Homo sapiens: one gene and its partners. The protein of the gene in region 1 purifies or fractionates together with the protein of each later gene. This does not show direct contact. Each region holds a gene or a part of one and is shown on either strand. Other genes may lie near its edges. The genes, in order: C3orf49, CARNMT1 and BPTF.

Evidence for each region.
Region 2: the proteins of C3orf49 (region 1) and CARNMT1 purify together in Homo sapiens (affinity purification with mass spectrometry; one large-scale study listed by BioGRID and IntAct). This does not show direct contact.
Region 3: the proteins of C3orf49 (region 1) and BPTF purify together in Homo sapiens (affinity purification with mass spectrometry; one large-scale study listed by BioGRID and IntAct). This does not show direct contact.

Annotation. Positions count from the first base shown.
Region 1 is NC_000003.12:63,818,116-63,822,098, forward strand, and holds the start of C3orf49 (putative uncharacterized protein C3orf49), read left to right. Parts: upstream 1-1,183; 5' UTR 1,184-1,356; coding exon 1,357-1,481; intron 1,482-3,983.
Region 2 is NC_000009.12:75,018,116-75,021,850, reverse strand, and holds part of CARNMT1 (carnosine N-methyltransferase), read left to right. Parts: intron 1-3,735.
Region 3 is NC_000017.11:67,908,809-67,912,543, forward strand, and holds part of BPTF (nucleosome-remodeling factor subunit BPTF), read left to right. Parts: intron 1-773; coding exon 774-953; intron 954-2,068; coding exon 2,069-3,735. UniProt on the Homo sapiens protein: Regulatory subunit of the ATP-dependent NURF-1 and NURF-5 ISWI chromatin remodeling complexes, which form ordered nucleosome arrays on chromatin and facilitate access to DNA during DNA-templated processes such as DNA replication, transcription, and repair.

The DNA of each region.
Region 1 (3,983 bases):
CATCTGCACCCACTCTCCTAGAATATGGATTCCTGGGTCTCATTCCCTGCTGAAGCGGAATTTCTATTTCACTTGAATTTTGCCATAAAACTATGGCTTGGGCACTATGAGTTGTCCCACTTTAGGGATGAGAAAACAAGCATGGGTGGGTTAAAATGAATTGGCCAAGGTCACATAGCTAAGCTAGAAATGAGAACTCATGCATAATTCCCAAATCCACTCTCTTAGCCCCTTAACATTATACACTTCATTCTAGACCATTTTAAAGCTCTTTTCCCCAGTACTGAAACATACAAGACCCTCACTACTCCAAGTGCAGTCTGGCATCATCAGCGTCACCTGCGGGTTTGTTAGGAGTGCAAATTCTTGGATCCCAGCCCAGATGTACTGTATCGAAATCTGCATCTTAAAAAGACCTCCAGGAAGTTTGTGTGCACTTGAAAGCTTGAGAAGTATGCTCCAGATTATTGATTAATGCAAACACAGAAAGCAGAGTAATTCTTGTAACTCCCAGAACCTTTCTAGAGGAGTTTTTCTTGTTAAGCATCTAGTTATTTGACTGAACAACTCAAACCGCGAGAGGGTAACAGGAATAAATCCTAGTGTCTGCTGCCACCTTGTGGTGAGAAGTTCCATCACAGGCAGAATTCGCTCTTCACCACGAAATAAATGGGGCAATGTTGGAAGGGAGGGGTGGATCAGGTCCTCAATTTAGCAATGTACTTTGAGAGACCACTGCAAAATTCCAAGATGTAATGAAAACCACCCTTGGGGTACATTTTGAGATGTCCAAACAACAACTGGCCTTGTCATATGTGTCCCACAGGACACAGAGAACATTCACCAGCTGTAACTGAGAGATCTAACAGAAGCTCAACTTGTGTTAATCAGCGTATCGTTGGTATTCCTATAGGTCCCTACCACTTCAGAGTTCAAATACGCACTTCTGAATGTGGTGGTCAATTAGTGTGTGGGTGTTTTTTGTTGTTGTTGTTGTTGTTTGATTTTTTTTTTCTATCCAAATGCCAGCATTGAGGCAATCAGATCATCATTTCTGTATTTGCCTTGTTCAAGAATCTGTGAAGTGTTCCACAAAGGTCCATGGAATTTCACACAGCTCTGTCAAATACATCACTGGTGACCTCTGTGAAGTTGTAAACAGGGCCAGTCCCACAAATAATGTCTCTAACACCTGGAAGGGAATAAGGGAAAGACTCTAAAAATTTCCTACATATTTTATTCCGAATAGCCCACACCTTGACAGTACATTCAGTCACTGGATGATTTTGTATTGAAGTCTGTAAGTTCAAGAACTAAAACAATCCAAAACGGCTACTACAGGTGAAGTTGAGAGCAATGGCCCAACCTCAGCTGTATCTACCAGAACCCTTTAAGATTGCCTACAGAAAAGTTGGACAGTGCCGAAGATTCCAGCAACTCAAGAAGAAAAATGGCTCATTCAAAAGGAAGGGGATAGAAAGGTAACAGAGATTCATTTCCTTTTCTGTCAAATGAGAGTCTTTGGGTTTGGCATAGTGGCATGTCCTTTTAAGCATTGCATTTAGGAATGAGGACTCTGGATGGATTGGCGGGGAGGGTACTGCGTTGGATCAAGAAATCTAGTGTGACAATGTAAGCTTCATTTTATGATCAGAAACATCTTAATTGTAACAGGGAAAACCTTTCCTTTCCACTCGAAATTAAGTTTCAATGTGGCATAGGAGACTAAAATAAGTTCTGATCCTATGTTGATATTTCAGCATCAGAATTTTGGACATCTCACATCCCGTGAAAATACTATTATTTTGAAAAGTCATTAGTGCATTCTTCGAAATAGGTCCACGATCAGTGCTTTCTTTCTCCTATCCCAGCAATTTGGGCTGCTGAAATATGTACTAATCACATTTCACTATGGACACATTGTTTAATGTAACGTTAAAACTGCCTTAGACTTGCTATTTTTTTGCCAATGACAAAACCATATAGACAGGTATGAAACATCCAAAATATAATATATTTTAATTTGGAAAGTCAGTGTGGTGATTTATTTTCCAATTTCTTTGGGCTTCTCTCTTACCAGGTCCATGGGCTATAGTTCAGACATGTAGAAGTGAGGTGTTTTAATGAGTCCTGGAAGCATCAAAGACCAAGCTTGTGAACTTCCATGGACAAAATAAAATACTGCAGAGATTTCCACTTTCAATGAAAAGTAGGCACTCCGGGGGAAGCAATACAACCAAATAAATTCAGTACCAACACAAAAATATTTAAAAACTTAAGAAGGGGAGGGTTCTGCTCATATCAGAAATTGCAGCAGTGTGTTCCTAGGCTCTGGAGCTAAATCACCTTTGTTAATTATGTTCTAGATAGATTGGGGATGAGAGTGGGGAGGATGGGAATGGGAAACACCTTCTAGAGATTCTGAGACCACTTAGAACTGGGCTTTTAACATGGGTGGTCTTCAAAATTCCTGAATCTCCTGAAACTGTATTTGCATTGTTCTGTGTCACAGTATGTGTATGTGTGTACATGTTTATAGTAGTAGAATCACTTAAAAATTAAATTATTATTAAAGGAGTCTCAGAGGGGTCTACGGGAGATTAATCCTACCCATAAGTTATCTCTGGGTGAATTAGGAAATGGTGCTCCCTCCTCAGGACATTTTACTGCCATCTGCCAGAAAATCATTATAATAACTATACACAAGTCTAAGGATGAAATTGAATAGCACCCCCTAGAAGTCATATATGTACATTTTGCAGAACCCTGCCCTTGGTCCCAGAAGGGAGGCTGCTAGCTTCTCCCTTATTTTGCCCTCTAGTGTGGGCTCCCTGCTTGCCTTTTAAGTTAATGGATTTTCCCCATAAGTTAATGGCTTTTCCCCACTGTTCTGATCCACATGGTAATAAAAAGTATCATTTATGGAATGCTTTTTAAGGTTCCAAACACATGAATTATTTCCTTTTATTTTCATAATTCTGAAAAGATTATGCCCATTTTCAAATGAGAAGACCAAAGCTTATAGAGGTTACATGACATGCCCAAGGTCACAGAGTTAGGAATTGTCCTGAGTTAAACCAATACCATTCAACTCCAGTGTCTAGGCTGTCACTGAACCACTTCCCATATATAATTACAGAAAAAGGCTGAATGATTTGGGTTCTGTTTAGAACAGTGTTTTCCTGGAGAGTAGTACATATGCTACTGATGGTACATGAGATATTTTAGGTAATATATGAAGAACATTGTTAATGGTTATAAATTTGTTTTAATCCATATTAGAAATATATGTTATATATTTAATACAACGTAATAGCATAATATAAAACCTGGGATTTCACCCAGAGAAATGAAAACTTATGTTCATACAAAACCTATAGATAAATGTTTATAGCAGCTTTATTCATAATAGCCCCAAACTGGAAACAACCCAAGTATCCTTCAATCAGTGAATAGTTAAACAAAGTGTGGTACATTCACATCATGGACTATTACTCAGCAATAAAAAGATATGAACAATTAATACACAAAATCTGGATGAATGCCCAAAGAATTATGCTGAGTGAAAAAAAGCATATCTCAAAAAATTACATGATGTATATTTCCATTTACATAACATTCTTGAAAGGACGAGAATTACGCAAACAGAAGACAGATTCGTAGATGCCGGTTTAAGAAAGGGGGGACCAGTGGATAGTGGATGTGGCTATAAAACATGAGGGATCCTGGTGTTACTGGAAATGTTCTGTATTCTGACTGTTTCAGTGTCAATATGCTGGTTGTGAAAATATAGTTTTGCAAGATGTCATCATTTGGGGAAACTAGGTAAAGAGCACACAGAATCTCCCTGTATTTCTTTCTTTTTTTTTTGTTTTTTTGAGACAGAGTCTCGCTCTGTCGCCCAGGCTGGATTGCAGTGGCGCGATCTCGGCTCACTGCAAGCTCTGCCTCCCGGGTTCACAACATTCTCCTGCCTCAGCCTC
Region 2 (3,735 bases), on another chromosome or scaffold:
TTCTCCTACCTCAGCCTCCCAAGTAGGTGAGACTACAGGCATGCACCACCACGCCTGGCTCATTTTGTTTTTTTATTTTTTTGTAGAGAGGATGGTCTTGCTATATTGCCCAGGCCGGTTTTGAACACCTGGCCTCAAACAGGCTTCCCACCTTGGCCTCCCAAAATACTGGGATTACTGGCATGAGCCACTGCAACTTTGTGTTAAGCAAAACGGAAATGTGCCAAAAGGTTAGAAGTGGTTCCCTCTAGAAGAGGAATTATTAGGCCTTCTTTCCTGAGTACTTCTAATTTCTACATTGTTCATGCTTTGAACATTTTAGTAATATAAATGAGATATACCTACTCCTTTTTTGAACAGTAGATATATATATATAGTATATATATTTATCCTATATATACTATTTATATTATATATACTATTTATACTATATATAGTATGTATATAGTATATATACTGTATATAGTAGATATATACTATGTATATAATATATATGGTATGTATAGTAGTATATATACTATATATAATATATATGGTATGTATATAGTAGTATATATACTATGTATATACTATGTATATATACATATATACTATGTATATACTATGTATATATACTCTATATAGTATATTGAACAGTAGGTATATATATAGTATATATATTTTGAGCGCTTGCTGTGTTTTCAGCTGTTGGGCTAAATCTTTTGAGTACGTTATTTTTCCAATGAAACCCTGTCTGCTAGGCAGAGGAAGGTAATGCTACCTACCTAATTATGAAGATCTTTCAGAATAATCCGTATTAACTGACTTGGTTTAGTCCCTGGTATTTATTAAATCTCAAATGGCAGCTTCCATGATCATCATCATTGTTCATTCTTATCTTGCTTCTGTATATGAGAGAGTTGGACAAAGGAAGGCGGTAATTTGCCTGGTGTCATGTGGCAAATAGGTGTCATAACCTGGATTTCATCCCTGATCTTTCTGACTTCAAAGCTCATTATTATACTCTCCCCAGAGGGGCATGTCAGTGGAGCTTCTGACAACTTGATCTCTTCACCTTATCCCTAAGGGCCCCCCACACCAAGCCACCAAACACAAGCTTGTAAAAACGCGACCAGCCAGGTTTTTGGTTGTTTGTCAGGAGCTTCTTCTGAAGTTCATTACTGTTTGGCAGTTGGAATAATTTGGCAGAGGGTAAAAATAAGAAAATTGTTTGGATGAATGAAGATTTAAGAAACCAAATGACAAAGATATTGAAAATGAAAGTGAAATTGAAAATGAAAATGAAGGCTGGGTGCGGTGGCTCACGCCTATAATCCCAGCACTTTGGAAGGCGGAGGCAGGCAGATCACGAGGTCAAGAGATCGAGACCATCCTGGACAGTATGGTGAAACCCCGTCTCTACTAAAAATACAAAAATCAGCTGGGCATGGTGGCGCGCACCTGTAGTCCCAGCTACTCGGGAGGCTGAGGCAGGAGAGTCGCTTGAACCTGGGAGGGGGAGGTTGCAGTGAGCTGAGATCGTGCTACTGCATTCCAGCCTGGGCAACAGAGCAAGACTCCATCTCAAAAAAAAAAAAAAAAAAGAAGAAAAATGAAATAGAAAATGAAAAATACTTCCATTTTCATTTAATATTGAATTAATACCAAAGAACATTTAAACATATACACATACATATATAGATATAAAATGTAAGGAATATTACAGTGAACACTTATAAATCACCTAGTTTTTAAAACACATTATCCTGTCTCTTTCACCCTCAGAATCATTAACCTGAATTTTTACTTCTTTGCTTTCTGTGTAGTTTTTCCACATATGCTCAGTCCCTAAATAATATTTAGTTTTCTATGAAATGCAATTGTACATTATGTATTTTACTGCAATTGTTTTCAACAAATGTATATGTTCTTGAGGTTATCCAGATGGTGATGGGAGTAACCAATTTCTGCCAAAATATATTTAGAGGTTTGTTCTGGGCCAATATGATAGTGACTGCAGCCTGTGGTTACACGATCTCAAACAACCCTGACAAAGTGCACCCCAGGTGGTCAGGTTACAGCTTGGTTTTATACATTTTAGATACAGGAATTACATGCAAGGTATACATTGATCTCACTCAAAAGGTAGGACATCTTAAAGAGGGGGTTACAAGTCATAGGTGGGTTTTAAGGATTCTTCAGCTGGTAGTTGGTTGATAGAGGTAAGCTATGGTAAGTAGAAAGGAATGCTTGAGTTAAGGGGCTTGTGAAGGCCAAGGTTCTTGTTAAGTTAATTGAAGCCTCCTAGGTAGCAGCCCTCAGAGGGAAGAGATACTAAATGTCACTTTTTAGACTTTAATGTTATCAGGCTCTCAGTTAATCTCTCCTGGATCCAGGAAAGGCCTAGAAAGGAAGGCCTGGTTGCATTAATGGAGATTCTTGACAGATGCATATTTCCCCTAGGAAACATGGCTTTGTGGGGCCATTGAAATCCGTTGGCCATGTGGCAGCCATTTCAAAATGTCAAATATATTTTGGGGTAAAATATTCTGATTTCCTTCTGAGTCTGCTATTTGTCATAAGATGCCATACCAGAGTCAGGTTGGAAAGTAAGTCGTATTATATAGGGTTAATAAAAACCTGTCCAGTGAGATTTCGTAATTAGTAAGGCATGACTCCCCAGGCCTCTTAGTGAAGAACTTGGAGAAGAGAGAAAATATAAAAAAGATCAGCGTTTAGTCTTCACATATTATTGTATGAGCTGTAATTTACTCATTTCGCTGCATTCCACTGTATAACTATACTGTAATTTCTTCATTCTATAGTAACTATATGATAATTTCTGATAGTAGACCTTTGGGTTGTTTCCAGATATTTTATTCCTTTTTTTTTTTTTTTTTTTTATGAGATGGAGTCTCACTCTGTCGCCCAGGCTGGAACGCAGTGGTGCAATCTCGGCTCACTGCAGCCTCTGCCTCCCGCGTTCAAGCGATTCTCCTGCCTCAGCCTTCCAAGTAGCTGGGATTACTGGTGGGCGCCACCATGCCCAGCCAATTTTTATATTTTAGTAGAGATGGGGTTTCACCGTGTTGGCCAGGCTGGTCTTGAACTTCTGACCTCAAGTGATCCGCCCACATTGGCCTCCCAAAGTGCCAAGGGATTACAGGGATGAGCCACTGCGCCCACCTGTTTCTTATCTCTAACAGTGCTATGACAAAGATTGTTCATGTTTCATGGGGCCCATTTGCAAGAGTTTCTAGGATATAATTGCTAGGTCATAAGGCAAGTACCATGCTAAGTTGTACTAGGTAATGCTCTAAATTTAATTTTCCAAAGTGGTTGCGCTGATGTATGCACTTACCATTAGTGTGTAAATGTCCTAATTACACCATATTTTCACCAATCACCAAAATTTGATATAGTCAGGATTTTAAATTTTGGCCATCTTGTCAATATAAAAATGATATACTGTGAGTATATATTTAACTTTAAAAAATGATGTTCTTATGGCCAGGCATGGTGGCTCATGTCTGTAATCCCAGTACTTTGGGCGACCAGGGCAGGCAGATTGCTTGAGCCCCGGAGTTTGAGACCAGCCTGGGCAACATGATGAAACCCATCTCTACAAAAAAATACAAAAATATTAGCCAAGTGTGGTGGCACATGACTGTAGTCCCAGTTACTTGGGAGGCTGAGGTGGGAGGATGGCTTGAACCTGGGAGACAGAGGTTGCAGTGAGCCGAGACTGTGCCACTG
Region 3 (3,735 bases), on another chromosome or scaffold:
TTCAGTTGTCACTGACAATTTTTTTTTTTTTTTTTTTTTTTGTTGACACGGAGTCTCACTCTGTCGCCCAGGCTGGAGTGCAGTGGCGTGACCTCAGCTCACTGCGACCTCCGCCTCCTGGGTTCAAGCAATTCTCCTGCCTCAGCCTCCTGAGTAGCTGAGATCACAGGTGTGCACCACCACACCCAGATAATTTTTGTATTTTTAGTAGAGATCGGGTTTCACCATGTTAGCCAGGCTGGTCTCAAACTCCTGACCTCAGGTGATGCACCCACCTCGGCCCCTCAAAGTGCTGGGATTACAGGCATGAGCCACCGCACCAGCCTATAGTATTAATGTTTATCTTGTAGCTGACTATGTTACTGAATCACAGTTTTTTGTTTTTTTTTTAATTTTTGGACACAGAGCCTCACTCTGTCACCCAGGCTGGAGTGCAGTGGCATGAGCCACCGCACCAGGTCCCCCCCCCCCTTTTTTTTTTTATCCTGCAGTGTTTTAAAACAAATTTCCTAAATCATATTTCACCAAAAATGTTCACAAAGTTTTCTGAAATGTCTGAAGTTCAGGCATTCCTTCTGTGTTTTAGGTCAGCCAGGCATATAGGATTATATGGTACCTTATACTCAATAAGACCTTTGTCTTTTTTTTTTTTTTAAATGAAAAAATGAAACATAACTTGCTGGAAATTACTTGTTTATTTTCACTAAACTTGACATATTAAAGTGCTAATACTCTGGAAATAACGTAAATTATCGTTACATGGTTCTTTTTAGCCAAAAATAATATGGATGAAAATATGGATGAGTCAGATAAAAGAAAATGTTCACGAAGTCCAAAAAAAATAAAAATAGAGCCTGATTCTGAAAAAGATGAGGTAAAAGGTTCAGATGCTGCAAAAGGAGCAGACCAAAATGAAATGGATATCTCAAAGATTACTGAGAAGAAGGACCAAGGTAAGGAGAGTCAGCTGTGGAGGGCAGCCTGGGGGTGATAAGAATGCACTGGATCAGGGTCCCACCACAGGAAAGGTACTGCGTTGTGTTTTCTTGATAACAGCTTTATCAAAACATAATTGATATCCCATACAATTCACCCAATTAAAGTGTAAATTCAGTGGCTTTTAGTATATTCACAAAGTTCAACCATTATTACATCAATCTTAGAACATTTTCATAACCTTGAAAAGAAGCCTCATTCATACCCATTAGCAGTTACTTCCCAACCCCTCCCGAAAGTGCCACCAGCTTAGTGGTCTACTTTCTGTCTCTCTGGATTTGCCTATTTTGGACAGTCCATAGAAATGGAATCAGACAATATGTGGTCCTTTGTGGCTGGCTTCATCCACTTAGCATGGTTTTAAGGTTCATCCATGTTGTAGCATTTATCAGTACTTTCTTTTTGTTTCTGAATAATACTCTGTATGGATATGCCACATTTTGTTATCCATTCATCAGTTGATGGACATTGGGCTGTTTCCTCTTTTGGCTATACGAATAATGCTGCTATGAACATTCATGCAGAAGTTTTTTGTGGCCATGCGTTTTCACTTCTCTTGGCGATATACCTAGGAATGGAATTACTGGATCATATGGTAACTCTGTTTAACCTTTTGAGGAACTACATTGTCTTTTGTAACAAGTCATTTTTAAAAAAAAACTAGATAAGCTAGATAATGCATGTGGCTAGAGATACTTTAAAAAAATATTTTTGGCTGGGCGTGGTGGCTCATGCCTGTAATCTCAGCACTTTGGGAGGCTGAGGTGGGCGGATCACCTGAAGTCAGGAGTTCAAGACCAGCCTGGCCAACATTGCGAAACCCTGTCTCTACTGAAAATTCAAAAATAAGCCAGGCATGGTGGCACATGCCTATAATCCCAGCTACTTGGGAGGCTGAAGCATGAGAATTGCTTGAACCCAGGAGGCGGAGGTTGCAGTGAACTGAGATCATGCCACTGCACTCCAGCCTGGGCAACAGAGTGAGACTCCATCTCAAAAAAAAAAATATATATATATAAATTCCTCCTTTCAGAGTAAAAATTACATTTATATAAATGTCTTTGTTTCACAGATGTGAAGGAGCTCTTAGATTCTGACAGTGATAAACCCTGCAAGGAAGAACCAATGGAAGTAGACGATGACATGAAAACAGAGTCACATGTAAATTGTCAGGAGAGTTCTCAAGTAGATGTGGTCAATGTTAGTGAGGGTTTTCATCTAAGGACTAGTTACAAAAAGAAAACAAAATCATCCAAACTAGATGGACTTCTTGAAAGGAGAATTAAACAGTTTACACTGGAAGAAAAACAGCGACTCGAAAAAATCAAGTTGGAGGGTGGAATTAAGGGTATAGGAAAGACTTCTACAAATTCTTCAAAAAATCTCTCTGAATCACCAGTAATAACGAAAGCAAAAGAAGGGTGTCAGAGTGACTCGATGAGACAAGAACAGAGCCCAAATGCAAATAATGATCAACCTGAGGACTTGATTCAGGGATGTTCAGAAAGTGATTCCTCAGTTCTTAGAATGAGTGATCCTAGTCATACCACAAACAAACTTTATCCAAAAGATCGAGTGTTAGATGATGTCTCCATTCGGAGCCCAGAAACAAAATGTCCGAAACAAAATTCCATTGAAAATGACATAGAAGAAAAAGTCTCTGACCTTGCCAGTAGAGGCCAGGAACCCAGTAAGAGTAAAACAAAAGGAAATGATTTTTTCATCGATGACTCTAAACTAGCCAGTGCAGATGATATTGGTACTTTGATCTGTAAGAACAAAAAACCGCTCATACAGGAGGAAAGTGACACCATTGTTTCTTCTTCCAAGAGTGCTTTACATTCATCAGTGCCTAAAAGTACCAATGACAGAGATGCCACACCTCTGTCAAGAGCAATGGACTTTGAAGGAAAACTGGGATGTGACTCTGAATCTAATAGCACTTTGGAAAATAGTTCTGATACCGTGTCTATTCAGGATAGCAGTGAAGAAGATATGATTGTTCAGAATAGCAATGAAAGCATTTCTGAACAGTTCAGAACTCGAGAACAAGATGTTGAAGTCTTGGAGCCGTTAAAGTGTGAGTTGGTTTCTGGTGAGTCCACTGGAAACTGTGAGGACAGGCTGCCGGTCAAGGGGACTGAAGCAAATGGTAAAAAACCAAGTCAGCAGAAGAAATTAGAGGAGAGACCAGTTAATAAATGTAGTGATCAAATAAAGCTAAAAAATACCACTGACAAAAAGAATAATGAAAATCGAGAGTCTGAAAAGAAAGGACAGAGAACAAGTACATTTCAAATAAATGGAAAAGATAATAAACCCAAAATATATTTGAAAGGTGAATGCTTGAAAGAAATTTCTGAGAGTAGAGTAGTAAGTGGTAATGTTGAACCAAAGGTTAATAATATAAATAAAATAATCCCTGAGAATGATATTAAATCATTGACTGTTAAAGAATCTGCTATAAGGCCATTCATTAATGGTGATGTCATCATGGAAGATTTTAATGAAAGAAACAGCTCCGAAACAAAATCGCATTTGCTGAGTTCTTCAGATGCTGAAGGTAACTACCGAGATAGCCTTGAGACCCTGCCATCAACCAAAGAGTCTGACAGTACACAGACGACCACACCCTCAGCATCTTGTCCAGAAAGCAATTCAGTTAATCAGGTAGAAGATATGGAAATAGAAACCTCAGAAGTTAAGAAAGTTACTTCATCACCTATTACTTCTGAAGAG